Regions from separate parts of the Homo sapiens genome. Here region 1 is linked to region 2. Evidence: fine-mapped expression QTL. A gene starts in region 2. The other region holds a variant in brackets. All regions are shown on one strand. Distances are between the middles of the regions. Region 1 overlaps MFN2 (mitofusin 2). Region 2 holds the start of MFN2 (mitofusin 2).

Evidence for each region. PIP is the estimated chance that this variant, and not a neighbour inherited with it, causes the effect.
Region 1: its variant is fine-mapped to the expression of MFN2 in whole blood (INTERVAL, PIP 0.91).

What each region holds. Positions count from the first base shown.
Region 1 is chr1:12,010,686-12,022,176 of GRCh38, forward strand. It overlaps MFN2 (mitofusin 2), which reads left to right. Exons shown (of 19, transcript NM_014874.4): 19 at 811-2,823. The coding sequence ends at 880. MIIP (migration and invasion inhibitory protein) reads left to right here and starts at 8,813. Exons shown (of 10, transcript NM_021933.4): 1 at 8,813-8,867; 2 at 10,960-11,155; 3 at 11,410-11,491. The coding sequence starts at 11,042. RefSeq lists enhancers at 8,473-8,522, 8,600-9,470, 8,643-8,722, 9,471-10,341. The variant AT/A (reference allele first, on the strand shown) is at 4,320.
Region 2 is chr1:11,973,076-11,989,452 of GRCh38, forward strand. MFN2 (mitofusin 2) reads left to right here and starts at 7,369. Exons shown (of 19, transcript NM_014874.4): 1 at 7,369-7,409; 2 at 8,895-9,039; 3 at 16,090-16,268. The coding sequence starts at 16,094. It overlaps PLOD1 (procollagen-lysine,2-oxoglutarate 5-dioxygenase 1), which reads left to right. Exons shown (of 19, transcript NM_000302.4): 19 at 1,578-2,462. The coding sequence ends at 1,733. RefSeq lists silencers at 6,985-7,244, 7,415-7,654 and an enhancer at 9,111-9,210.

The DNA.
Region 1 (11,491 bases), 35 kb after region 2:
TGTTTGGCCCAAGCTCTTAACTCTCCTGTGTCTCATTATTTTCATCTGTAAAATGGGAGTAAGATTTCATGACACAGCTGCATGACTGAATGTAAAAGTGCCCTGCAAAAGTCCTCGGCCTGCCCAGCTCATGATAACATCAGCACACGGGGACCCTGCAGAAGTCCTCGGCCTGCCTAGCCCATGATAGCATCAGCACACGGGGACCCTGCACTTCCTGCCCTCGCCCCTGACGTCAGAGTCTGCAGGGTGGCAGAGCCAGAGGGGAGATGGATCAGAGGGTGTCAGCTCCAACCCTCACCGGATCACTGGGCTTTCCCTGCCCTCGACTGCGGATGTGCCCCCCCCGCACCCCCACCTGGGGACAGCTGCTTCCTAGGGACACACTGCTTGCCCTCTGGGGACTCTCAGAAAGGGGGAATGGGGGGAACTGCTGCTTGTCAGCCACAGTGACACAGCTGAACCTGGAAAGGGTCTCCTGTCAGCACCTCAACCCCTTGCTTGGCAAGCAGGGAAACTGAGTTCCCGACAGCTCAGGGACTTGCACATGGTCCTGGGTGAAGGAAACACAGGGCTTGAGAATCAGAAAAGCCTAACTTGTAGCTCCCTGGCTTATTAGCCGTGTGGCCTTGGGAAGTTATTTAACCCCTCTGGGCCTCCTTTTCCCCATCTGTGAGACAGGGATAAACACGATTGTTGGAGGATGATGTAAGGGTGTGTGTCAAGCGTCCTTAGGATGGTGCCTGGCGGGTAGTCCTAATACTGCCTATCATCAGCTATCATGGTTACAAAAGAACCATTTCTTTGCAGGAATAAAGCCGGTTGGTTGGACAGTGAGCTCAACATGTTCACACACCAGTACCTGCAGCCCAGCAGATAGTGGGCACCTGAGGCGGAGTCTGCGTGGAGAGGGGCGGTGCTGCCAGCCCTAAGTGCCATGTGGGCTCCCCCAGGGGCACGTGTGGCTCCTGCCCCCTGGCCACTGCCAAGAGAATGAAGCACCCAGTCTCGTACCATTTTGAGCCCTCCAGCACTACTTATTTTCCCCCACCTTTGCCTGCTGTTGCTGGAAGAGCTGGCTCATACCCCCAAAGGACACTTTCAGCGACAGCTATGGACAGCATGGTACCAAGGAGTTAAGTTGAGGCTTTTTCCAGCTTTCTCTGGTTCATTTGATTGCTTGATAAGGCCTCAGGATCTCAGCATTGCACAATGCCTCATGGAAGCCTTTGAGGGTATCACACAGACACCCCCACCTTCCTCCAGCCTGTGCGCACCTGCCCTCCTTGCAGCCCAGCACACCTGCAGGTGTAAGGGACGATTGGAGTTTCTTCCCAGAGAGTCTGTCCCAGAAGGACTGTGGCTTGTGTGTGTCCATCTCGCCTGTTGGCTCAGTGCTTCATCCCATTTGCAGAGCCTCAGACACGTCTTGGTGGTGAGGCTCAGTTACCCCTGGGCTTAGGCTGAGGCGGGCCCTGTGCTGGGGGTGGTAGAAAGGATGCTGCTGAGGCAGCTGGAGGAGTGGGAGTAGCTCAGAGGGGAGGGCTGTTGGATGTATGGGGAGCTGGCAGAGCAGGTGGCAGTCACTGGGACAAGGAGGGACTTGCCTCTCTTCTCATTATTGTGTCCTTTGCTTTAGTGTCAGTCCTGGACTTGTGCAGGCCTGTTTTGTGTAGATCTGTTTTGGAAGATGGCATGGTCTAGGTGGTTGAAGGATGTAGTAGAAGGATGGATGGTGGAAGGTGGGGACGTTGGTGGCTGGCTGAGGTGCATGGGCCCCACACAGGACAGCTGGAGAATGGGCCGTCCACTTGGCCTCGTTCTGCGAGGGGCTCATGGGTCTGAGAGCCCCCACCCACTAGGCTTGATTGCATCCCTGTTGTGCCCTTTAAGAGACATGTTTCCACCCCACCCCCAACCTTGTCCCAAGTGCCCTGGACTAAATTTCCTGTGCCAGTGACTGCAGTTGGCCAAGGGACAATGTGGAAAACCCAGTGTCCATCTTTCCACCCTCCCTGATCTCCAGAACCTTCGACTGACCCCCTTGTCTTTATGCTGATGTTGAGTTTTGGGATTGTTACTGGTTGAAGTGGGGGCAGATGCCTGTCACCAAGGTGTTGACTGTGTGAGAAAAGCAGTTTGGGTGACAAATCCTGTGTGGCACAAGTTGGATCGCTTCCTAGAAATAAGCAACACCTCTCCCAAAAAGCAGCCCACAAGGCAGGGGCCCAGCAGCCCAGCCATCACTCATCTTTGAGGAAATGAGTTGGTAGCCTCTGTGCACTGTTTGGTGGCCACATCACAGGTGATGTCCTGTTCACATACCTGCTTGTATTTAAAGCCCTCAGTCTGTCCTGTTGTGTGGGGCGAAGTGATGGACTCTGCCAGGTGGACATGCTGTGGGTGGATGTTCCCGGCGTGTGCCGGGCCTGAATGGACAGGGGCCACTTCACAGCATGTCAGGGAAAATCACTGTCACACAATTCCAATGGATTTTGTGCTCTTTTTGAAAAAAAAAAATTCTTTAGCGTAAACATGAATTTTTTTTCAATGTAGCCCCTGGGGAATGAATGAAATTTTGAGCTTCTTCAATACGTAAAATTAAATTTATACCACTGAGGGAGAGACCCTTTCTGAAAGAAGTATGGCCAAAAGCACTTTAATGCTGCTGACATTGTTGTTTTTATGTTCATTTGCTGGAGCGCAAGACGTGCTGACACAGTGAGTTTTCTCTGATGTATTTAAGGTGATGTATTTGCTTGAGTTACTCCTGTATCATTGCTCATAATATTGGAAACTAAAATAAAACCTAGTTGGAAATCCTTTGTGAGATCTGTCTTTTTGGGTTCTTGTACAAACTCCTCTTTGACATGGCCAGCTGTATTCTGAAGTGACCATAACTTTGGGGAAGTTCCCACTATAATCTGGCTCCTTATTCTTGGAAGGAATTTGATACTCTCAAAAGAACAGATGGTTTAACTGATCTTTAAGGATCAGGAAATCGAGACTGATTTCTTTACAGATTTCTCTGTAACTCCAGACCATTTTTCACTTAAAAAGTAAATGACTCACTGTTCCATCCTGCTTTGCCTTCTGAGAATTTGGTTGCCACTATTCTTTTTTTTTTTTTTCTTTTTTGAGATGGAGTCACGCTCTGTCGCCCAGGCTGGAGTGCAGTGGCACGATCTCGGCTCGCTGCAAGCTCCGCCTCCCGGGTTCAAGCAGTTCTCTGCCTCAGCCTCCCAAGCAGCTGGGATTACAGGCGCCGACCACCAGGCCTGGCTAATTTTGGTATTTTAGTAGAGACAGGGTTTCATCATCTTGGCCATACTGGTCTCAAACTCCTGACCTTGTGACCCACCTGCCTCGGTCTCCCAAAGTGCTGGCATTACAGGTGTGAGCCACCGCTTTTTTTTCTTTTTTTTTTTAAGGGTCCTCAGGAGTAGATACAGGGGTAGTCAGTCAGTTTCCCCGCCCCTACAGCTGTCCTCTTGGCTCTGGTGCTGCCCAGTGTCCGCCCTGCTCGCCCACAGAGGCCACAGCTCAGCTGATAGCAACCTCATCCTTCCAGATTCCCAGGCTACACACTTGGGGCATCACCCTCGAGTCCACGGTCACACGTGCTGCACCAAATCTGTCACCTGCTGTCTTCCAAGTCTGTTGACCCTGCCCAGTTTCCTCACCTCCATCATAACCATCAGCCCGGATCTAGGTTCCTGTTCCTGCCTTGTCCCCGCCTATCCTCGCCATCTTGTGGCTGTTTCAAGGCAGCAGCCAAAGACTTTCTCAGGTAACAAAAAAAAAATGAATCATTACCTTTTTTTTTTTTGCAATCCACAAAACAAGTAGTTTCTGTCATTAACAAGATGTTATGTACAACCCACTAAATTGTTCACGACAGCATCATCCCGGGTGATGAGCCATAGTTTGAAAAAGGGCCTTCTTGCCTTATGCAAATGCTGCTTAGTTATTCCCAGTCAAGGCCAGCCTCATTCCTGTGCTTTCTCTGACTACCTCATCTGTCCACTGGCGAATCTGAGAGGCTGGAAGTTTTAGCCCTCTGGTAACAATGTCCCTATTTAATCACAAAAAGTAGGTAGTCAGGAATGTTCCACTGTGTCCCAAGCACTGGGGTGACAGCCCAGGCAGCTCTCTCGGAGAGCATCTGGCTTCATAATGTGGCCTCAGAAGCAGGGCCCTCCTCGCAGATGTCAGCTAAGTTGTTCACCGTGTCCTCAAGTGGATGGTTTCCTGTGTCTAAGTGGGACTCTTAGGCTTGAGATAAGAACAGCGAACTTTGAGAGTTTAGTATGTCAGAC[AT/A]TTCATACGCATGAGCCCTAATCTCAAAATCCAATGGTCTATTTTCCCTAATTTCCTCAAATGAGGAAGTTCATTAATTCAGCAAAATATTTGTGCACTTACTATGTGCTAAGCATGGTTCTAAGCACTGGAGATATAGCAGTGACTAAGGTGGATAAAAATCTGCCCCTGGGGCCAGACGCGATGGCTCACGCCTGTAATCCCAACACTTTTGGGAGGTGGGCGGATCACGAGGTCAGGAGTTCAAGACCAGCCTGGCCAACATGGTGAAACCCCATCTCTACTAGAAATACAAAAATTAGCCAGGCTTGGTGGCGTGCACCTGTAATCCCAGATACTAGGGTGGCTGAGGCAGGAGAATTGCTTAAACCTGGGAGGTGGGGGTTGCAATGAGCCGAGATCACGCCATTGCGCTCCAGCCTGGCAACAGAGGGAGGCTCCCTCTCAAAACAACAACAACAACAACAAAAATCTCACTCACTGATTAGTAACCTTTTTCAGTTACAAAGAAAAACAACATACTCGCTAAACTCCCTAACATCAGGAGCCATCAGGCAAATTATCTCAAGTCTTGATTTACAAACCAAACCCTTATGCCTCTGATTACACAGGGGACCGGTCTGACAAACTTTTTTTTTTTTTTTGAGGTAGGTTTTTGTTGGCTGGAGTGCAGTGGCGCAATCACGGCTCACTGCAGACTTGACCTCCCAGACTCAAGTGATCCTCTCACCTTAGCCTCCCGAATAGCTGGGATTAAAAGTGTGCGCCACCATGCCCGGATAATTTTTTGTTTTTTTGTAGAGACGAGGGATCTCACTATGTTACTCAGGCTGGTTTCGAACTCCTGATCTCAAATGATCCTCACACCTTGGCCTCCCAAAGTGCTGGGATTATAGGTGTGAGCCACCATGTCTGGACACAAATATTCTTTTTCTTTTTTTAATTTAATTTTTCAAATAGAGAATGTATGTTGGCTGGGCACAGTGCCTCATGCCTGTAATCCCAGCACTTTGGGAGGCTGAGGTGAGAGGATCGCTTGAATTCATGAGTTTGAGACCAGCCTGGGCAATCTGGCAAAACCCTGTCTCTACAAAAAATACAAAAATTAGCCCAGCATGGTGGTGTGCACTGGTAGTCCCAGCTATTCCGGGGGCTGAGGTAGGAGAATCACTTGAACCCAGGAGGTGGAGGCTGCAGTGAGCCGAGATTGCATCACTGCACTCCAACCTAGGCAACAGAATGAGACCCCGTCTCAAAAAAAAAAAAAAAAAATAGATGGGATCTTACTGTGTTGCCCAGGCTGGCCTCTAATTCCCAAGCTCAAGTGATCCTCCTGCCCCAGCCTCCCAGAGTGCCGGAACTACAGGCATGAGCCATCACACCCAGCCAATAAACATTCTTTTCTGATAAGCAACTGCAGAACTTAAGCCAGTTTCAGCCAGCTTACAGAAGCTGTGAACAACCTGTTTAGCCAATGCACATGAGCTCACCTCCTCTCATAAATATGTATACAGCTTTTCCCTCAAACCTGCTAAATATGTATGAATATGGGCCCTGTGAGGCATAAAACCCAACCTGTCCTTTCTCTCTTGGAAGAGAGCACCTTCAGTGCATGCTGCAAACCATCTCTTCCTGGTTTGCAAACAAGTATCAACAATAAAGTGCTCCTTTCTACTATTTAGCCACCCTGGTGATCTTCTAGACAACATTATGCGTATTTCTGCTAGGAACATTAGTGTTCAAATCTCTGTGTAGGCAGATGTTTTCATTTTTTGTAGGTAGATATCTCAGGCTGGACTTGCTGGGCCATATGGTAAATTTATGTTTAACTTCTACAGATTTTGTGAAGTGGTTATACTGTCTTATATCCCCACCAGTAGTGAATGTGGGTTCATATATATATATAGTTTTTTTTTTTTTTTTTTTTGAGACAGTCTTACTCTGTCACCCAGGCTGGAGTGCCGTGGCACAATCGCGGCTCACTGCAACCTCCGCCTCCCAGGTTCAAGCCATTCTCCTGCCTCAGCCTCTCGAGTAGCTGGGATTACAGGTGCCCACCACCACACCCGGCTAATTTTTTTCTATTTTTAATAGAGACGGGGTTTCACCATGTTAGCCAGGCTGGTTTCAAATTCCTGACCTCAACTGATCCGCCCGCCTTGGCCTCCCAAAGTGCTGGGATTACAGGCCTGAGACGTCGTGCCCGGCCTCATTTCATTTTTTAGAGCATCACAAACTACCTCTCCAGCTCATCTTGCTAGAGTTACTGCATAATCCATGCATTCCTGCCAAGGATCAGCCATCTTCTTGAGTCGGAGGGCTTCCTGCTAGCTCGGTGCCTGGTGTTATCACCCTCGGCTCTTCTGGAGGTAGAGGGGCTACCTATCTTCTTTTCATTCTTTTTTTTTTTTTTTTTTAATTTGAGACAGAGTTTCACTCTTGTTGCCCAGGCTGGAGTGCAATGGTGCGATTTTGGCTCACCACGACCTCCGCCTCCCGGGTTCAAGCGATTCTCCTGCCTCAGCCTCCCGAGCAGCTGGGATTACAGGTATGCGCCACCATGCCCGGCTAATTTTGTATTTTTAGTAGAGACGGGGTTTCTCCATGTTGGTCAGGCTGGTCTGGAACTCCCGACCTCAGGTGATCCGCCTGCCTGGACCTCCCAAAGTGCTGGGATTACAGACGTAAGCCACCGCGCCCAGCCAATTTTTGTATTTTTAGTAGAGACGGGGTTTCGCCATGTTGCCCAAGCTGATCTTGAACTCCTGACCTCAGGTGATCCACCCGCCTCGGCCTCCCAAAGTGCTGGGATTACAGGCGTGGGCCACTGCGCCCGGCCCCAGTTTTTCTAAGTTATATAGTTTAGGTTTCACAACTAGATCTATGATCCATTCTAGGTTAATTTTTGCATATGGGTTTCTTTTTTTTTTTTTTAGGATGAGTGTGTGGATATCCAATTATACCTACAACATTTGTTGAAGACACCATCTCTTCTTGTTTTCCCAAGTTTCCACACACATTATTGATAAAATAAATTTTTTTGGGGGGGGTGCTGGGTGTCGCTGGGCTGTAACTCCTTACCTCAAGCCATCTGCCCACCTCGGCATCCCAAAGCGCTGGGATTACAGGCGTGAGCCACCGCCCCGGGCCGAAGGCATTATCCTTTCTCCACTGAATTGCACTTTCATTTTTGTCAAAAATTAATTGCTCACATATCGGAACTCTATTCTGTTGCATTGATCCATTTGTCTACCTGGACGCCAATACCACACTTTCTTTCTTTTTTAAATTAATTTATTTATTGAGACAGGGTCTCTCAGTCAGGGTGGAGTGCAGTGGTGCAATCAAAGCTCACCACAGCCTCAGCCTCTTGGACTCAGGTGATCCTCCCATCTCAGCCTCCCGAGTAGCTGGACTACAGGTACGTGCCTGGCTCATTTTTTGTAGAGACGGGGTTTTGCCATGTTGCCCAGGCTGGGTATCTTTTTTTTTTTTTTCTTTTTTGAGATGGAGTCTTGCGTCTTGCTCTGTCATCCAGGCTGGAGTGCAGTGGCGCGATCTCGGTTCACTGCAATCTCTGCCTCCCTAGTAGCTGGGTTCAAGCGATTCTCCTGCCTCAGCCTCCCTAGTAGCTGGGATTACAGGCGCCGGCCACCTCGCCCGGCTAATTTTTGTATTTTTAGGTTTACTGGCGTGAGCAACCGCGGCCGGCCCCAATACTACACTTTCTTGTTTACTGTGTAGTCCTTATCTTCTGGCGCAAAGCGGGCACTCGCTAAAAACCTGAATGAAAGTATAAAGCAGGCCGGGCGCAGTGGCTCATGCCTGTAATCCCAGCATTTTGGGAGGCCGGGGCGGGCGGATCACGAGGTCAGGAGTTCGAGACCAGCCTGGCCAACATAGTGAAACCCTGTCTCTACTAAAAATACAAAAAAAAAAAAAAAAAAAAAAAAAAAAAAAAAAAAAGCCGGGCATGGTGGCGCTCGCCTGTAGTCCCAGCTACTCGGGAGGCTGAGGCAGGAGAATCAATCGCTTGAACTCGGGAGGCAGAGATTGTGGTGAGCCGAGATCGCGCCACTGCACTCCAGCCTGGGCAACAGAGTGAGACTCCGTCTCCAAAAAAAAAAAAAAAAAGAAAAGTATGAAACGATGAGTACAATGAGTAGCCAGCCGCCTGCCCCACCTACCCCGCCGCTCCGGACTGCCGCCTGCGCCGAGCCTAGGCCGCCCAGCCTGACTGAAACTGCCGCTGCTGAACTCAGCGTATCCAGTCCCGCAGCTGACCAATCGGAGCTCGCCCTTCCGGGGCCCGCCCCATTCCAGGAATCGACCTCCGCACCGGCCTCGAAAATTGACCAATCGGTTGTGTAGCTCCGCTCTTAGTCCCGCCCCCACGCTGAAACTGACACTTCGGATCGCCGAGTAACGCTCACCAGACGTCCCGGCCCTGCCCCTCACCTGACCAATCAAGACGGCCGGCCGAGGCCCCTGGAACGGCTCAGGCGGCTGCGGCTGCTACGGCGGCGCATGCTAGGGGATTCTGCCGGGTGAGTGCTGGGCGGCAGGACTGGGGTGGGGCGGAAGGGCTCGGCAGGAGGCCCCACGTGCATTCCCGCGAGGGGCTCGGGGGCCGCAGTGGAAAAGAAGGGTAGGCTGCATCTGCCTCTGCGGGGGTCCCGCCTCGGCGTCCGCCCGCTCGCCCTCTGTTACTTCTGCGGCCCCGGTGTTTCTGGAGCGTCGCTTTCCCGGTGTCTCCGCTCAGCTTTTCCCTTTCCAAAGCGCGGCCGGGGCCAGGGGAGGGCAAGGCCTGCTGTGCCCTTTGACCCCGTGCGAAAACGGCGACCCTCTGACTATAGGGGTGTGGCCCAGAGCCACTTGGCCAGTTAGGGGTGGGGGCCGGGATCTTTGTCCTGCGGATCAAACAGTTGGCCCCTCTGGACTGCATCTCCGTGCCCCCCGGCCCTGCGGGGTAATATACGTGTGTGGGGGAGGTTCCGGGGTAGTCGGCTACTCTGTGCTCCAGACCTTGCACCCGATCCTGAGGATCCTTGGAGGTGGGGGGCAAGGGCTGGGAGGAGGAGGCGGAGTTTTCCCAGGCTCCCCCACACTTCCAGGGAAAGGCTTTCCAAGAACCCTGAACTCATGGACCCTGGAGTCAAATTTTGGTTCAGATCTAGCCTCTTGCTAGCTGTGTGACTTGGGGCAAGTTGCTTAACTTCCCTGAGCTTTGGTTTCTTCATATGTAAAAAGAAAGTGAAGGAGGAAGGGAGGGCAGGAAAGGAGGAAGAATCCCTTTTGAAGCCTGATTTGTGTTGGACTCACCAGTTATAAAGCAAGCTTGTCCAAACCACTGCCCAGGAGGCGGAGGTTGCAGTGAGCCAAGAAAAAAAGGAAGCATGCCCTTGCCCCAGCCATTTTGGTAATAATAGACGTTTATTGAATGCTTACTGTATACCACTGTAAGCACTGTATTAAGTAAGCACTGTACTGAGTGCTTTGTTTTTTGTATTTTGTGTGTGTGTGTGACAGTCTTGCTCTGTCACCCAGGCTGGAGTGCAGTAGTGTGATCTCCACTCACTACAACCTCCGCCTCCCAGGTTCAAGCGATTCTCCTGCCTCAGCAGCCTCCTGAGTAGCTGGGATTACTGGCGCCCACCACCACACCCGGCTAATTGTTTGTTGTTGTTGCTGTTTTTGAGACGGAGTCTCACCCTGTCGCCCAGGCTGGAGCGCAATGGTGCGATCTCGGCTCACCGCAACCTCTGCCTCCCGGGTTCAGGTGATTCTCCTGCCTCAGCCTCCCGAGTAGCTGGGATTACAGGCGCGTGCCACCACGCCCGGCTAATTTTTGCATTTTTAGTAGCGACGAGGTCTCTCGCCACGTTGGCTAGGCTCATCTCAAACTCCTGACCTCAGGTGATCCTCCTGCCTCAGCCTCCCAAAGTGCTGGGATTACAGACGTGAGCCACTTGGCCTGTTTTTTGTTTTTTTTACAGTGATGCAACCATGGCTCACTGCAGCCTGGGTCTCCTGGGCTAAAGCTATCCTCCTGAGTAGCTGGGGCCACAGACAAGTGCCACCATGGCCAGCTAATTAAATTTTTTTTTGGCCAGGCACTGTAGCTCATGCCTGTAATCCCAGCACTTTGGGAGACCGAGGCAGGCGGATCACAAGGTCATGAGATCGAGACCATCCTGGCTAACACGGTGAAACCCCGTCTCTACTAAAAATACAAAAAATTAGCTGGGCGTGGTGGCAGGCGCCTGTAGTCCCAGCTACTCAGGAGGCTGAGGCAGGAGAATGGCGTGAACCCGGGAGGCGGAGCTTGCAGTGAGCCGAGATTGCGCCACTGCACTCCAGCCTGGGCGACAGAGCAAGACTCCATCTCAAAAAAAAAAAACAAAAAAACAAAACAAAAAAAAATGTTTCTACAAATGTTGTCCAGGCTTAACATGCTTTCTTTAATTCTAACAACAATCGTATGAGGTAGATACTGTTGTCGTCCAGCAGATGAGGAAACTGAGGCACAGAGAAGTTAAATAACTTGCCTGAGGCAGTACAGTTAAAGAGTGTCGAATGGGGGTCTCTGGCACCACAGGGCACCCTACTGAGCCCCGTGTCCTGCTGTCTTGACTTCAGGTAGAAGAGCTGGGCCTGGAACCCAGCCCTGAGGACATCCTGCGGCCCAGGGGCAAGTGACACCTGCTGAGAGAGGCCCAGGATGGTGGAGGCTGAGGAACTGGCACAGCTGCGGCTGCTCAATCTGGAGCTCCTGAGGCAGCTGTGGGTGGGGCAGGATGCTGTGCGGCGGTCAGTGGCCAGGGCAGCCTCGGAGGTGCGTGCCCGCCTTGGGAACCCCAGAGGAAGGGGCTACCTGACCTTCAGGCCAGCATCCAGGCTTCTGGGCTCATCTTGTTCAATACACCCATTTTACTGATGATGGGACATTGAGGGCTGGGGAGGGAAGAGACTGGCCTTGGTCACTGCTGAGGCCGGAGCAGGATGAGGATGCTTGCCTTGGTGCCTGGCGTAGGCCCGGTGGGTAGGTTCTGGCAGCCACTCCCTGGGTGACCCGGCCCCTCTCTCCAGTCAAGCCTGGAATCCAGCAGCAGCTACAACTCAGAGACTCCATCGACCCCAGAGACGTCCTCAACTTCCTTGAGCACCTCCT
Region 2 (16,377 bases):
TGAGGCAGAGGGGCCCCAGGTAACCAGTGCCAGAGAACCAGAAAAAAAAGGATGTGGGTCTGTGGGAGGGCTTCCTGGAAGGGTTCACAGTCTAGCAGGAGGAGGGGCCAGGCTCTTAAGCTACTATTTTAAGAGATTTTTGGGCTCGGCATGGTGGCTGATGCCTGCAATCCCAGCAGTTTGGGAGGCCAAGGCAGGCAGATCACTTGGGGCCAGGAGTTTGAGACCAGCCTGGCCAACATGGCGAAACCCCATTTCCACTAAAAATAGAAAAATTAGCTGGGCGTGGTAGCACACACCTGTAATCTTAGCTACCCAGAAGGCTGAGGCATGAGAATCTCTTGAACCCAAGAGGTGGAGGTTGCAGTGAGCTGAGATCATGCCACTGCACTCCAGCCTGGGCAACAGAGCGAGACTCTGTCTCCAAAAAAAACAAAAAGAGGTTTTTTGAACTTAGCCCTGGGCTGGGTGCTGTGGAGAACACTCATAAAAACAGCTATAATCCTTTTTTTTTTCTTTTTCGAGACAGGGTCTTGCTCTGTCACCCAGGCTGGAGTGTAGTGGCATGATCACAGTTCACTGCAGCCTCAACCTCCTGGGCCCAAGCAATCCTCCCACCTCAGCCCCCCCAAGTAGTTGGGACCACAGGCGTGTGCCACCATGGCCAGCTAATTTTTTTTCTTGCTTTTAGAGATGGGGTTTCACTATGTTGCCCAGGCTGGAGCTATAATTTTTTGAGAGCTTACAACAAACATATCAGGCATCCCTAATCCAAGGATTCTCAACCAGGAGCAACTGTGGCCTGCAAGGGACATTGGCAGTACCTGGAGACATAATTGGTTTTTACAACTATGAGGGGCTACTGGCATCTAGTGGGTAGAAGTCAGAGATGCCCGGGACAGCCTTCCACAGCAAAGTGTCTATAGTGGTGAGGTTGGGAAGCTTGATCCTCAGCTCTCAATTGTAACATCTCATTTAATTCTCACTATCCTGTTCTGTTTAACCCTCATTTTACAGAAGGGGAAACTGAAGCTCAGGTTGGTCACAGTTAGTAAAGAGTGGAGGTGATGTCTGCCCAGGGCTGCCTGACTCCAAGGACAGAGCTCTTGATCACTTACTCTTTGGGTTTTTTTTTTTTTGAGACAGTCTCATTCTGTTGCCCAGGCTGGAGTACAGTGGCGCGATCTCGGCTCACTGCCTCCTGGGTTCAAGTGATTCTGTCTCAGCTTCCCGAATAGCTGGGATTACAGGCGTGCGCTGCTACACCCAGCTGGTTTTTGTATTTTTAGTAGAGATGGGGTCTCACCATGTTGGCCATGCTGGTCTTGAACTCCTGACCTCAGGTGGTCCACCCGCCTTGGCCTGCCAAAGTGCTGGGATTACAGGCGTGAGCCACCACTCCTGGCCACTACTCTTCATTTAGTGTCTTCCTTAGCAGCGCTTGTGGCTGTCACTCCAGAAGGCATCCCCAGGCAGGCAGTGCTGAGGGCCACTTGGCCATGACAGGAGATCATGACGGGAGAACAGACGGGCAGGGGGGCGGTGGGGAAAGGCCACTGATGCTTTCTGTCTCCCAGGGCGGGGGCTGTCGGTTCCTGCGCTACAACTGTTCCATCCGAGCCCCAAGGAAGGGCTGGACCCTCATGCACCCTGGACGACTCACGCATTACCATGAGGGGCTCCCCACCACCAGGGGCACCCGCTACATCGCAGTCTCCTTCGTCGATCCCTAATTGGCCAGGCCTGACCCTCTTGGACCTTTCTTCTTTGCCGACAACCACTGCCCAGCAGCCTCTGGGACCTCGGGGTCCCAGGGAACCCAGTCCAGCCTCCTGGCTGTTGACTTCCCATTGCTCTTGGAGCCACCAATCAAAGAGATTCAAAGAGATTCCTGCAGGCCAGAGGCGGAACACACCTTTATGGCTGGGGCTCTCCGTGGTGTTCTGGACCCAGCCCCTGGAGACACCATTCACTTTTACTGCTTTGTAGTGACTCGTGCTCTCCAACCTGTCTTCCTGAAAAACCAAGGCCCCCTTCCCCCACCTCTTCCATGGGGTGAGACTTGAGCAGAACAGGGGCTTCCCCAAGTTGCCCAGAAAGACTGTCTGGGTGAGAAGCCATGGCCAGAGCTTCTCCCAGGCACAGGTGTTGCACCAGGGACTTCTGCTTCAAGTTTTGGGGTAAAGACACCTGGATCAGACTCCAAGGGCTGCCCTGAGTCTGGGACTTCTGCCTCCATGGCTGGTCATGAGAGCAAACCGTAGTCCCCTGGAGACAGCGACTCCAGAGAACCTCTTGGGAGACAGAAGAGGCATCTGTGCACAGCTCGATCTTCTACTTGCCTGTGGGGAGGGGAGTGACAGGTCCACACACCACACTGGGTCACCCTGTCCTGGATGCCTCTGAAGAGAGGGACAGACCGTCAGAAACTGGAGAGTTTCTATTAAAGGTCATTTAAACCACTGAAGGGAAGATGCTCAGGGCGAGTGGGTGTGTGTGTGTCTTGGTGTGAGTGTCTGCAGGGAGAGAGGTTTTAAGAGCCCTCTTTTTTTTTTTTTTTCTTTTTTTGAGACAGAGTCTCACTCTGTCTTCCAGGCTGGAGTGCAATGACGCTATCCCCGCTTTCTGCAACCCCCGCCTCCTGGGTTCAAGTAATTCTCCTGCCTCAGCCTTCCGAGCAGCTGGGGCTACAGGCACCCATCACCACGCCTGGCTAATTTTTGTTTTTTTATTAAAGAAAGGGTTTCACCAGGTTGGTCTGGCTGGTCTTGAACTCCTGACCTCAGATGATCCACCCACCTCGGCCTCCCAAAGTGCTGGGATTACAGGCATGAGCCACCGTGCCCGGCCAAGAGCCCTCTTTTTAGAGCCTTTAAGAAAGGTCATGCTAGCCTCTCGACCCCTGAGTAGCTGGGATTATAGGTATCCATGCCTGACACATTTTTGTATTTTTTGTAGAAACGGGGTTTCATTTCACCGTGTTGGCCAGGCTGGTCTCGAACTCCTGACCTCAGGTGATCCATCCGCCTCGGCCTCCCAAAGTACTGGATTACAGGCGTGAGCCACCATCCCAGGCCTGAAAGTCTTTTAAAAAAGATTTTTGAGGCCAGGCACAGTGGCTCACACCTGTAATCCCAGCACTTAGGCTGAGGCAGGCGGATTACCTGAGGTCAGGAGTTTGAGACCAGCCTGGGCAACGTGGCGAAACCCTGTCTCTACTAATAATATGAAAAAATCAGCCGGTTGTGTTGGCATGCGCCTGTAATCCCAGCTACTCGGGAGGCTGAGGCAGGAGAATCGCTTGAACCCAGGTGGTGGAGGTTGCAATGAGCCAAGATTGGGCCACTGCACTCCAGTCTGGGTGACAGAGCAAGACTCCATCTCAATTAAAAAAAAAAAAAGATTTTTTAGTCTTTTCATTTTCAAAATTGACTCATTGTAAATTCAAACAGCACAAATCTTAATCTTTCTGTCATCCTTTCCCCCCAGCTGCTCAGTTCCTCTCTCTGAAAGCCACCATGTCTAATCTGTTTTTTGAACGTTCTTGAGCTGGTTTGTGCCGACACAAGCCTGTGTGTGTGTTTGTGTATGTTAGGGTTATTTTTGTTTTTGTTTTTGAGATGGAGTCTCACTCTGTCGCCCAGGCTGGAGTGCAATGGCATGATCTCGGCTCACTGCAACCTCTGCCTCCCGGGTTCAAGCAATTCTCGTGCCTCAGCTTCCCGAGTAGCTGGGATTACAGGCACCCGCCACCACGCCCAGCTAGTTTTTGTATTTTTAGTAGATATGAGGTTTCACCATGTTGGCCACGGTGGTCTCCAACTCCTGACCTCAGATGATCCACCTGCCTCGGCCTCCCAAAGTGCTGGCATTACAGGTGTGAGCCACTGTGCCCGGCATAGGGTTGTTTTTAACTGTTAACTTTTTTCTGATTACAAACTCATCTTCACCATGAAAAAGTCAAACAAAATAGGTAACATGGGGGGCCGGATGCTGTGGCTCACATCTGTAATCCCAGTACTTTGGGAGGCTGAGGCGGGTGGATCACTTGTGGTCAAGAGTTTGAGACCAGCCTGGCCAACATGGCAAAACCCCCATCTCTACAAAAAAATACAAAAATTAGCCAGGTGTGGTGGCAGGTGCCTGTAATCCCAGCTACTTGGGAGGCTGAGCTGGGAGAATCACTTGAACCTGGGAGGTGGAGGTTGCAGTGAGCCAAGATTGCACCACTACACTCCAGCGTGGGTGACAGAGCAATAACCTGTCAACAACAACAACAACAAAAAGTAATATGGACCGGGTGCAGTGGCTCATGCCTGTAATCCCAGCGCTTTGGGAGGCTGAGGTGGTAGGATCACTTGAGGCCAGGAATTCTCAACCAGCATGGCCAACATGGCAAAACCCTGTCTCTATTAAAAATACAAAAATAAGGTGGGCTTTATGGCACATGCCTGTAAACCCAACTACTCAGGAGGCTGCAGCACGAGAATCGCTTGAACCCGGGAGGCAGAGGTTGTAGTGAGTTGAGATTGTGCCACTGCACTCCAGCCTGGGTGAGAGAGCAAGACTCTTGTCTTAAAAAAAAAAACAAAAACGTAAGAAAGAAAGGTCTCCTGGAGTTGTACATCAGTGTGCTCTGCACCCATTCCCAATAACACTCAGCACTGCTAGGAGAGTTTTGTCATCCCGAGGGTTGAAACGAGGATTCAGCCATCTCAATGAGAAACACATGTTAATGGGTTGAAACATATCTCCAAACTGAGATTTCCTCTACTTGCTGGGCAAGTATGCAGATGTGTTTCAGAGATAAAGCCCAGCTGCTGGGCAGAGTACAAGACTAAATGCCTGGGAATGGATTCAGAGGTTCCTACAGCAGTCCAGGCAAGTGACCAGGACCTAGACCAATGCTTGCAGGGAAATTTAGGGAAGAGGAGGGAGTGGGCAGGGGAGATGTTTAGGAGAGAGAACATCCAGGCTTTCACCTGACGGGCAAGATTCTGCTAAAAAGGAAAAGGAAGGCTGGGCGTGGTGGCTCACACCTGTAATCCCAGCACTTTGGGAGGCTGAGGCGGGTGGATCACCTGAGGTCAGGAGTTTGAGACCAGCCTGGCCAACATGGTGAAACCCCATCTCTACTAAAAATACAAAAATTAGCCAGGCATGGTGGTGCACGCCTGTAATCCCAGCTAGTGGGGAGACTGAGGCGGGAGAATTGCCTGAGGCGGAGGTTGCGGTGAGCCAAGATGGTGCCACTGAGCTCCAGTCTGGGCAACAGAGTGAGAGCGAGACTCTTTCTCAAAAAAAAAGAAAAAAAAAAAAAAAGAGGAAATGGAATTTATAGTTCCTGCCCTCAGAGAATGGAAGTGGAATTTAGAGTTCCTCTCCTTAGGGAGTCCAGAGATTGTGGAGGAGGAAACAATCCGACCCAGTACCAGGCAGCTAGCAGCTGAGGCCCCAAGGCACGCTACATCCCAGACAGGGCCCTGTCTACACCCTGAGGCTGAGTCTGCGTGTGGCCCCACAGTCCACAGTCAGACCCGCGGGGCACTAGGCTACTCAGAGGGCAGTGTGGGCAGGACAGCTCCCTTTGGCCATCGTCATGAGACTGATAAACCAGTCACTTCTATATCAGAGTACTGATTTGCCTCTTGAGGTTGTTTGTGGCAATAAATTGAGGTTGTTCTACCATGGTTATAGAGCAGCACCATCCCACAGAATTACAGTTTGACCCACAAATGCAAGCTACTTATGTAATTTTAAATTTTCTAGTAGCGACATTTTTAAAAAGAAACAGGTGCAATTAATCTTAGTAATGTATTTAACCCAAATGACCCAAAATATTATCACTTCAACATGTAGTCAGCATATAAATAGTAATGGGCTAATAGCCCTGCACTGTGGCAGGTACCTGTAACCCGGCATTTTGGGAAGCCGAGGCAGGAGAAGATTGCTTGACTCCAGGAGTCCAGGAGTTCAGGACACCAGCCTGGGTAACAAAGTGAAATGCTTCCCCATGTCTACAAAAGATAAATACTAGGCATGGCTGCAGCATCTGTGGTCAGCTACTTGGGAGGCTGAGTGAGGTGGGAGGATTACTTGAGCCCAGGAGTTCGAGGCTGCAGTGAGCCGTGATTGCACCACTGCACTCCAGCTTGAGTGAGAGTGAGACTCTGGCTCAAAGATAGATTTTTTTTTTCTTTTTTGAGACGGAGTCTCTGTTGCCCAGGCTGGAGTGCAGTGGCATGATCTCGGCTCACTGCAACCTCCACCGCCCGTGTTCAAGCGATTCTCCTGCCTCTTCCTCCCGAGTGCACTATCATGCCTGGCTAATTTTTGTATTTTTAGTACAGACGGGGTTTCACCATGTTGGCCAGGCTGGTCTTGAACTCCCGATGCACCCGCCTCGCCCTCCTAAAATGCTGGAATTACAGGCTTGAGCCACCGCGCCCGGTCGATATTTTTTTTTCCTAAAAATTGAGATAGTTTAACAGCCTTTTTTGTCCTAAGTCTTATAGCGCATCTCCGTTTGCACTGGCTCAGGACTCGAGAGCCACACGTGGCTAGTGCCTACTGTTCTGGCGCGCTCAGGCTTGGAGCCTTCTCTGCGGAGGCCAAGTCCTGCAAGGGATCTGTTTGCTGCGGTTTCCTAGTAGTGTCTGCCGCATCACTGGGGCCCGGTGATCTGGGTAACCATGTGAGCTTGGGTAACCTCTCCTCTCCCTCTCCTGGGACTGCTGTGGACGTTAAATACAGCGGTGGATGTTAGAGACGCAGTTCAGTCACTGGCATTGATTCGCCGTTGTTGCTGCTCTTCTTTCCTCAAAGGCGACTGAAGGGCAGCAGGCCCATGCTCGCTTCTGTCTGCCCGATGAGTCACTTCACCCTAGGCCTGGCCCTCTAGAGAACACTCCTCTAAGATTACAGAATGCAAATCTGGATTCCAGAGCTGGCAGAGGCCCCAGGGTCAGGCTCTAGGACAACCGGCGAAAAAGCGGGAACCTCTACTCCACGCCCTTGGTTTTTCGCCCCTTGACAGCTTGAGGCTCCGCCCCGCTTTGCCCCGCCCCCCCAGCTCCGGCCGACGCCCACCGGAACTACAGCCCCCATGATGCAGTGGGAGTCCGAGCCTCTGCGTCGTCCGCTTGGGACGCGCCGGCGGAGGAGTGGCGCGCGGAGGAGTGGCGCGCTGAGACGCCGCTCGAAGCGCCGAGTCGCGGGGCAGCAGAGGCGTAAGGAGTAGGCGGGGCGAGCCGGCTGGGCTCAGGGTCCACCAGCTCACCCGGGTCGAGGGGCAATCTGAGGCGACTGGTGACGCGCTTATCCACTTCCCTCCTCCCGCCTCCCCCTGGGGTGGCGCTCGCTGGTGACGTAGTGAGTGTGATGGCCGCCGCGAGGCCGGGAAGGTGAAGGTGAGAGGGCGAGCAAGCCGGGGTGGCGGGGACTGGCCCGGCCCGGCCCGGCGAGTCCTGAGCAGCTCGGCGTGGGCCGACGGGATTCTGGGGCCACGGGGGTCTGGGATGCAGTCAAGCGGGGTCCCCACTCTCCGGCCTCGCCGCCGGGCCCTCCCCGGCCCTGAGAGGAGGGGGCGGGCCACGGGACCTGGGACTGGTCGGTGGGGTCCCCTGTAGCTTCTCATCGCCCCCGCCTTTCCACCCTTCACGGCCATGTTCTACCCCTGCCCCTTCTCTATTTTTCATCCTGTCTTCATTTTGCCAGCATTTACTCAGCACCTGATAGGTGTCCACGTTCACCGCGGGAGCGCCCTGCCATCCCCACTTTGGGCAGTTACTGCCTTCTCGTTCAGCCCTGTTTACTTATATGACTTCTCACCGGACTGTAAGGCCCTGGAGGGCAGGACTGTTTCTTATCCATTTCTAACGTGGCGCCTGACACACACAGAGAAGGCACACAGAAAATGTTGAATAAATAGCTGTTAAGACGCACGAAGGCAGAACTGCCCGTTACCCCCTCTCGTAATCCTTCATTGCCCTCTTTAAATTCTCAATCATCTCTCTCTCTTCTACCCAGAAAAGGGCTCTGGTTATCTCTTTTCTACCCAGAAAAGGGCTCTGGTTATCCGCCTCTGGTGTCCCAAGGTTTGGGGCTTGGGGGAGGAAGGCAGCTCAATGTAGTTAAAAAAGGAAGGAGGCCGGTCGCAGTGGATCACACCTGTAATCCCAGCACTTTGGGAGGCTGAGGCGGGCGGATCACCTGAGGTCAGGAGTTGGAGACCAGCCTGGCCAACATGGTGAAACCCCGTCTGTGCTAAAACCAAAAACTAGCCGGGCTTGCTGGCACACGCCTGTAATCCCATCTACTCAGGAGGCTGAGGCAGGAGAATCGCTTGAACCCGGGAGGCGGAGGTTGAGCCGAGATCGCGCTGCTGCACTCCAGGAGCTTTGGAGTCAAAGGGAGCTAATATTTCAGATCCCAGCTTAGACAAATCTTCAAGTATTCCAGCCCTCTGTCCCACAGAATAGAGAATTAAGTGAGATACTTTACAGTAGCTGAACACATTGGCTTTCAGTCAGTTCTTCTGTTCCTCAATAGTCAGCTGTTCCACAGTCCTCAAGCCCAGTTTTGTTCCTAGTTTTGCTCTGTCCTCTTCTCCCCTCTCTGGATGTACCTTTCCCAGGGCTCCTGCAGGGACCTCCGTGGTGCCTCAAACCCGCACATGGCGGAATACGTGTGCACAGTCAGGATTGGTCCCACACCTCTGCGTTTTTTTCCCCAGGGCACTTCCTCACATGCCAGCGCAACTCCCCAATACCTCAATGAGTAAGCTTCCCTCAGGGATGAGTTTGTTTGGCTTGAAACCTGATTAGACATGTTTTGTACACCAGTGTTTTTTTTTTTTGGACACCGGATCCATCTCCCTTTTCTTTTCTAATAAGTCAGGACTGGTGGAGTCAACACAGTCAATCAATAGCCAACCTCAACCTGAGACAGGACAGAAGAGAACTCAGAATCTTTTTGTCTTTTGGACTTCAGCCATGTCCATGATGCCTACCCTGTGAAGATCTCTCACCATCCAAAAAAGTAAGTAGTAGCTGTGACTTCTGGCACCCTGGATTTGAGCTGAGTGGACAGGGGTGTGCTCTCCTGGACCTCTGGTGGCAAGTCTCTTGAATGGCATCCTCTTTGTATAGAGCCACAGCTTTCTAACTTGTGTTGAAAAACTACCGTATCTTTTACTTCCGTGAAGGATTTCGCTGGTTGCTTAGAGAGCCTGTTTAAAAGTTGACAGTTCAGAAGTGGCTGGGATCTCTTGGGCTCCCTGAAGAGTTAGTCTCTGTCTCCCTCATTTGGTCTCTGCTGTGCTGGCTCTTCCCCATCTCGGCCCAGCACAGGTTGGCTCCTTGTCACTGCTCTTTTAAGACTCTGCTCTGTCCCCTTTACCCTGTATACTCTTTTTGTTTCGATTTCTCAGCTTCTCCTCTTTTCCAGTTGTGCCAGCAGACGATCCGTGGATCCATTTTATTTTCCCTGCTAGGAGTTGCTGTACATAACACTGGGTAAGGAGGTGGTGTGGATTCAGGGACTGTGCTTGGGATCCAAACACACCTTGCAGTGAATTTTGCTACTGCTGTCTCTACACCCAAGATACCTAATACTCCTCAACGAATAGCCTAGGTTGAGGCAAAGCTGTTGACCACCTTGGAGGGCTAATAGCAGTTTCCATTTAGAACTGGGTTCATTTCTGGTCTTAGGTTAATATTTATTAATACTGTGCCCTGGCACTTTTTAGGGGTAGGGGCAGGAGAGTACCAGAAAGAGTGGGCTTTTCCCTAAAGTGTGATCCTCGGGATTTTAAAAGCTATTACACAGAAGGGTTTTTTCATTGATTATATTTGTGAAATGCTGAATTCAACACAGTTAAACTAGTGTCTTTACAACAAGGCTTCCTTCCCAAACTCTTTTGCTGTGCTCACGTGCTCCACTGAGGAAAATGGTAGCATATGGTGTTTTTTGTTTGTTTGTTTGTTTTTTGTTTTTTTTGAGACAGAGTCTTGCTCTGTCACCCAGGCTGGAGTGCAGTGGCGCGATCTTGCAGTGGCGTGATCTTGGCTCACTGCAAGCTCTGCCTCCCAGGTTCACACTATCCTCCTGCCTCAGCCTCCCGAGTAGCTGTACTACAGGTGCATGCTGCCATGCCTGGCTAATTTTTTGTAGTTTTAGTAGAGATGGGGTTTCACCGTGTTAGCCAGGATGGTCTCGAACTCCTGACCTTGTGATCTACCCACCTCGGCCTCCCAGAGTGCTGGGATTACAGGCGTGAGCCACCGCGCCTGGCCTAGCATATGGTGTTTTACAAACTGATTCTACTATTGAACCTTCTTTACATGGGATATTGGGTGCAAGTCGAGTTCTGTGGACCACGCTTTGGGAAGTGCTGCCAGAAACTATCCAAAACAGTAATCTCCAGAGCACTTATGAGGCAGTCACAGCTTGAAGTGTGACGCTTAGTGTGTCACTGATGTTGGAGCTGGGCTCTCAGGCTATGCTTGCAGGATGGTCCCCACGTGCCTGTGGCAAGGTCTGTGGTGAAGCAGAGATTATCAAGGCTTTCCAGAGGCAGAGGAGGAACCCAGCTGCCCTGCATCACCCTGGAGGAGTAGGGAGTCAGCAGTCAAAGCCTTGAGATAATTGGGGAACACAGGATGTGATAAAAACCAGAAGTCTGTGATGTTGTTTGTTCTCTATGAGGCATCAGAGGAGGCTTCATGGAGCGGGTGACACTTGAGTTGGGTCTAGAAGGACAGTAGGAGTATGCCAAATGGGTGGAAAAGGAAGGAGGATTCCAGGCAGAAAGCAGCTCATGCAACACAGATGTGGAATCTCAGCTTGCAAGTTAGCAGAGCCAGATAAATCAGGCAGAGTTTGGAGGGGTTGACAGTAGGTTTTACGCCAGGGGTTTGGATGCAGCTGCAGGCTGGGTATTAGTGAGAGCAGGGAGGCTCCTGGACCGGCTGAACTCCCAGCAGACCTTGTAACCTGGAGCTCCCAAGCTTCTACTGGTGTACACGCTGTCGAGTCTTGCAGTTAGTGAGCACTAATGCTTTTGGTTTTATATCTCCTGGGCTTGCAAACATTGACCAGAACTTAAAAGCACCTGCTTCTGATGGCAGGGAACTTGCTTCCTGCAGCAAGTCACTTCTGGAGTGGGGTATCGCTGATCCTTCCCCAGCTGACCTGTTTATTTGATCTCCGTGATAGCGGGTAAGGGAGTGGTGTGTGTGGTGTGAGTTGGCGGAGTTGCCTCTGCCCTCCCTGAAGGCTGGGTGTTCATGGAGAGAGTCTTGTGATCTTGCTGGTAGAGTTTGTTGTTATTGTTTTATAACATGTAAAGCTGCCTTTAGCTCTTACTGTAGTGAAGCATGTTGCTTGCGTCATCAACTTTAGTCTTCTCACAGTTTAGATGGTATTGTGGTATTAGGATATTGGTTTTCATCCACGGATCCAGGCTCATAACTCCTATCCACAGCCCTTGTTATGGTTTTTTGATATAATGTTAGATGTGTTAGGCCTCAGGGGCAGGCCTCTGACCTTCTGCTCTCCTTCCACCCTAATCTTTCCCCACCTGATTGTGGGCCTTAAAACCCTCCCCTGAGAGGGGTGGACCCTGTATCCTGGGGGAAGGAATGCTGATGTCATGAAGCTTCCATAAAAATCCAAGAGGACAGAGTTCAGGGAGCTTGTGGATAGCTGAACACACGGAGGTTCCTAGAGAGAGGCCTGCTCAGGGAGGGCACAGAAACTACACGCCTCTTCCCCCATACCTCGCCCTAAGCGTCTCCTTATCTGTATCCTTTGCGATATCCCTCATAATAACCTGGTAAACGTAAGTAAGTGTTTCCCTGGGCTAGGTAGGCTGCTCCATCAAATTAATTGAACTCAAAGAGGGGGTCATGGGAACCCCAGCCTGAAGCCAGTCGGTGAGAAATTCTGGAGGCCCAGACTTGCAACTGGTATGTTTGAGGGGTGGTGGTGGAGAGGCGGGGCAGTCCTGGGGACTGAGCCCTCAACCTGTGGGATCTGACACTCTCTCCAGGTAGACAGCATGGGAACTGAATGAGAGGATACCCAGCTGCTGTCCGCTGGTTGGTGTGTGGGGAAGAAACCCCCTCACATTTGGTCACAGAAGTCTCTTGTGTTGATGATTATGGTGTGAGAGTAGAGAAAAAAGATAATTTGAGACAGTTTCTCTCTCCAGTAGGTGTCTTGTTTGTTGTACACATGAAGAAACCAAGGTTCTGTGATGAAATAACTTGCTTAAGTTTAAGCAGCCCAGAAATAATGTAGTCACAATTTGAACCCAGCTCTGCCTGATTACAAAACCTGTCATAGGTAGTGCTATATCATGCCCCATCCTTGATCCCTTTTTTTTTTTTTTTTTTTTTTTTTTTAAAGAGAGAGACTTCGCTCTGTCACCCAGGCTGGAGTACAGTGGCGAGATCTTGGCTCACTGCAAATTCTACCTCCCAGGTTCAAGTGATTCTCCTGCCTTGGCCTCTGGAGTAGCTGGGACTACAGGCATGCGCCACCACACCCAGCTAATTTTTTGTATTTTTCATAGAGACGGGGTTTCACCATGTTGGCTAGACTGGTCTTGAACTCCTGACCTCAGGTGAGCTGCCTGCCTCGGCCTCCCAAAGTGCTGGGATTACAGGCATGAGCCACCGTGCCTGACCCCTGATCCCTTTTCTATTCCTTTTGGATGGCTTTCCTCTTGTGCCTGCCACATCCCCTCTTTCTCGAACAGTCTGATCTGCCAGGCCATGGCAAGCCTCATTTCAGCGCACTCTCCTTTGCTGCTTTGGAAGAGTGAGAGTAGCATTTTCTTTGCAGTTTCCTTTCTCAGAGCTGTACTGTCTTTAAGCCCTGGACATATGGCTTCCATGCTGAGAAAACATCTCTCATAGCTGTGGCGTCATGCTGAGGAGGAATGTAGAAACGGAAGTGGGGTCACTTCCTTCCCTTGTCTCCAGAGGAATCATTAACATTGCACAAGAACTTGTTGGTTTGGGCACACATGTGGGTCCCTATCCCGCTTTGGGTCGGTCTGTCTTCTGCCCACTCTTTGGGATGGTTAGTTACTAAAAGTCCGTTTTGGCATTTGGTCTTCATGTACCTCTTCCGGGTGTTCTTTCTGCTTTTCAGGACCTTGTGCAACATACTTTGGCCCCATTTGGAAGTTTTTCACGTGTGCTTGCTGGGGAGCAACACCTCATTTCCAATCTAGAGAGAGTGAGCTTACTGCTGGGTGGAGAACTGAGCAGTAAGATTAGGGTGGCTGGGGAGGCAGTGACAGACCCAGGCACAGTCAGCTGTGCACACACCCCCTCATCCAGGAGGGCCTTTGCCCTTTGACTTCCTGGGATTGGTGGGCTCTGCTCAAGAAGTAGCTTTCGCCGTGGTGGGAACTCTGAGGGACCTGGCAGGGGTCCACTTTTGGGGTCGGAATTCCCAGTCTTACCCTGGGCACTCCTTCTGGTGTGTACGCCTCTTTTTGATCTTTTTTTTTTTTTTTTTGAGATGGAGTCTTGCTCTATTGCTCAGGCTGGAGTGCAATGGCGCGATCTTAGCTCACTGCAACTTCCAGCTCCCAGGTTCAAGCAATTCTCGTGCCTCAGCCTCCCGAGTAGCTGGGATTACAGGTGCCTGCCACCATGCCTGGCTAATTTTTGTATTTTTAGCAGAGAAGGGGTTTCACCATGTTGGCCAGGCTGGTCTCAAGTGATCCACCCGCCTGGGCCTCCCAAAGTGCAGGGATTATAGGTGTGAGCCACCATGCCCAGCCTCTTTTGACCTTTGACCAAAGACCTCTAGGACTTTGGAGTCAAGTCTCATGACCTCTAAAATGTTGTTATATGAAAAGATAAGCTACAAAGATATGTAGGATTGAGTGAGAGCAAGAGAGACAGTCACACAAAAATAGACTGTGATAATATGGCTGGGTACGGTGGCTCACGCCTGTATTCCCAGCACTTCGGGAGGCCGAAGCAGATGGATCACTTGAGGTCAGGAGTTTGAGACCAGCCTGGCCAACATGGTGAAGCCCTGTCTACGAAAAATAAAAAAATTAGCTGGGTGTGGTGGTACATGCCCGTACTCCAAGCTACTCAGGAGGCTGAGTGAGGCAGGAGGATCGCTTGAACCTGGGAGGTGGAGGTTGTAGTGAGCTGAGATTGCACCACTGCACCCAGCCTGGGTGACAAAAGTGAGACTCTGTCTCAAAAAAAAAAAAAAAATTATAATAAACAAAATGTTGGGCCGGGCGTGGTGGCTCATGCCTGTAATCCCAGCACTTTCGGAGGACAAGGTGGGTGGATCATTTGAGGTCAGGAGTTCAAGACCTACCTGGCCAACATGGTGAAACCCCACCTCTACTGAAAATACAAAAATTAGCCGGGCATGGTGGCGAGTGCCTGTAGTCCCAGTTGCTTGGGAGGCTGAGGCAGGAGAATAGCTTGAACTCGGGAGGTGGTGGTTGCAGTGAGCCGAGATCATGCCACAGCACTCCAGCCTGAGCGATAGAGCAAGACTCTGTCTCAGAAAAAAAAAAAAAAAATGTTGGCTGGGCATGGTGGCTCACGCCTTTAATCCCAGCACTTTAATCCCAACACTTTGGGAATCCAAAGTGAGAGGATCATTGGAGCCCAAGAGTTTGGGAGCAGCCTGGGCAACATAAGAAGACCCTGTCTCTACAAAAAATTTTAAAAAAATTAGTGGGGCGTGGTGGTGCATGCCTGTGGTCTCATGTACTCAGGAGGCTGAGGTGGGAGGATTGCTTGGACCCAAGAGGTTGAGGCTGCAGTGAGCTGTGATTGCGCCACTGCACTCCAGCCCAGGTAACAGCGAGATCTTGTCTCAAAATAAAAAATAAATAAGTAAATAAAATGTTAACATTGCTTATCACAAAATGATGGGGTTATGGGTTTTTTTCCCCTTCAGTTTCCAAATTTTCTGTAGCACACCTGTGCTATACTAAAATAGACCAATAGTTTTTGTGTGTGTGTGTGTGTGTGTGTGTTTTTCTTTGTTGAGACTTGGTCTGGCTCTGTCACCCAGGCTGGAGTACAGTGGTGCGATCTCGGCTCACTGCAACCTCCGCCTCCCAGGTTCAAGCAATTCTCTGCCTCAGCCTCCCAAGTAGCTGGGATTATAGGCGGCCACCACCACACCCGGCTATATTTTTTTGTATTTTTAGTAGAGACGGGGTTTCATCATGTTGGCCAGGCTGGTCTTGAACTCCTGACCTTGTGATCCACTTGCCTCAGCCTCCCAGAGTGCTGGGATTACAGGCATAACCCACCATGCCTGGCTGTTTTTTTTTTTTTTTTTAAATAGAGACGGGGTCCTACATTGCCTAGGCTTGTCTCGAACTCCAAAGTTCAAGTGATCTGCCTGCCTTGGCCTCTCAAAGTGCTGGGATTATAGGTATGAGCCACTGAACCTGGCCCCTAACCAATAGTGTTTTTATGTGGTCTTGCTCTGTCTCCCAGGCTAGAGTGCAGTGGACTGATCATAGGTCACTGCAGCCGAAACTCCTGGGCTCAAGTGACCCTCCCACCTCAGACTCCCAAGTAGCTAGGACTGCAGATGCATGCCACTGTGTCATGCTAATTTTGTTTTATTTTTTGAGACAAAATCTCGCCCTGTCACCCAGGCTGGAGTACAATGGCATGATCTTGGTTCATTGCAGCCTCCATCTCCCAGGTTCAAGTGATTCTCCTGTCTCAGCCTCCCAAGTAGCTGGGATTACAGGTGTGTGCCATTGGGTCTGGCTAATTACTGTATTTTTAGTAGAGACGGGGGTTTCACCATGTTGGCCAGGCTGGTCTTGAACTCCTGACCTCAGGTGATCCACCTGCCTCAACCTCCCAAAGTTCTGAGATTACAGGGGTGAGCCACCGCGCCCAGCCTGAGACACTGTTCTTATCTCACCGTCCTTTGTTCTAGTCCTGGAGGTTGCAGTGACCTGAGATCCCCATATTCTTGATTCTCCCCAAAGCATTCCGCCATCTCCCTAGCAGGATGTCCCGAGGTAGGTGTTGCTGGGTTCGCTCACGTTAGCTTCTCTTGCAGCGCAATGTCCCTGCTCTTCTCTCGATGCAACTCTATCGTCACAGTCAAGAAAAATAAGAGACACATGGCTGAGGTGAATGCATCCCCACTTAAGCACTTTGTCACTGCCAAGAAGAAGATCAATGGCATTTTTGAGCAGCTGGGGGCCTACATCCAGGAGAGCGCCACCTTCCTTGAAGGTAAGGGGGCACCGGCTCAGCCAGGCCCGCTCTTACCTGTTTAGATATTTAGCTAGTGGGATTTGCGGGTGGGGAGGTATATCTCTGCTCCCAGGGAAGTCATAACCAG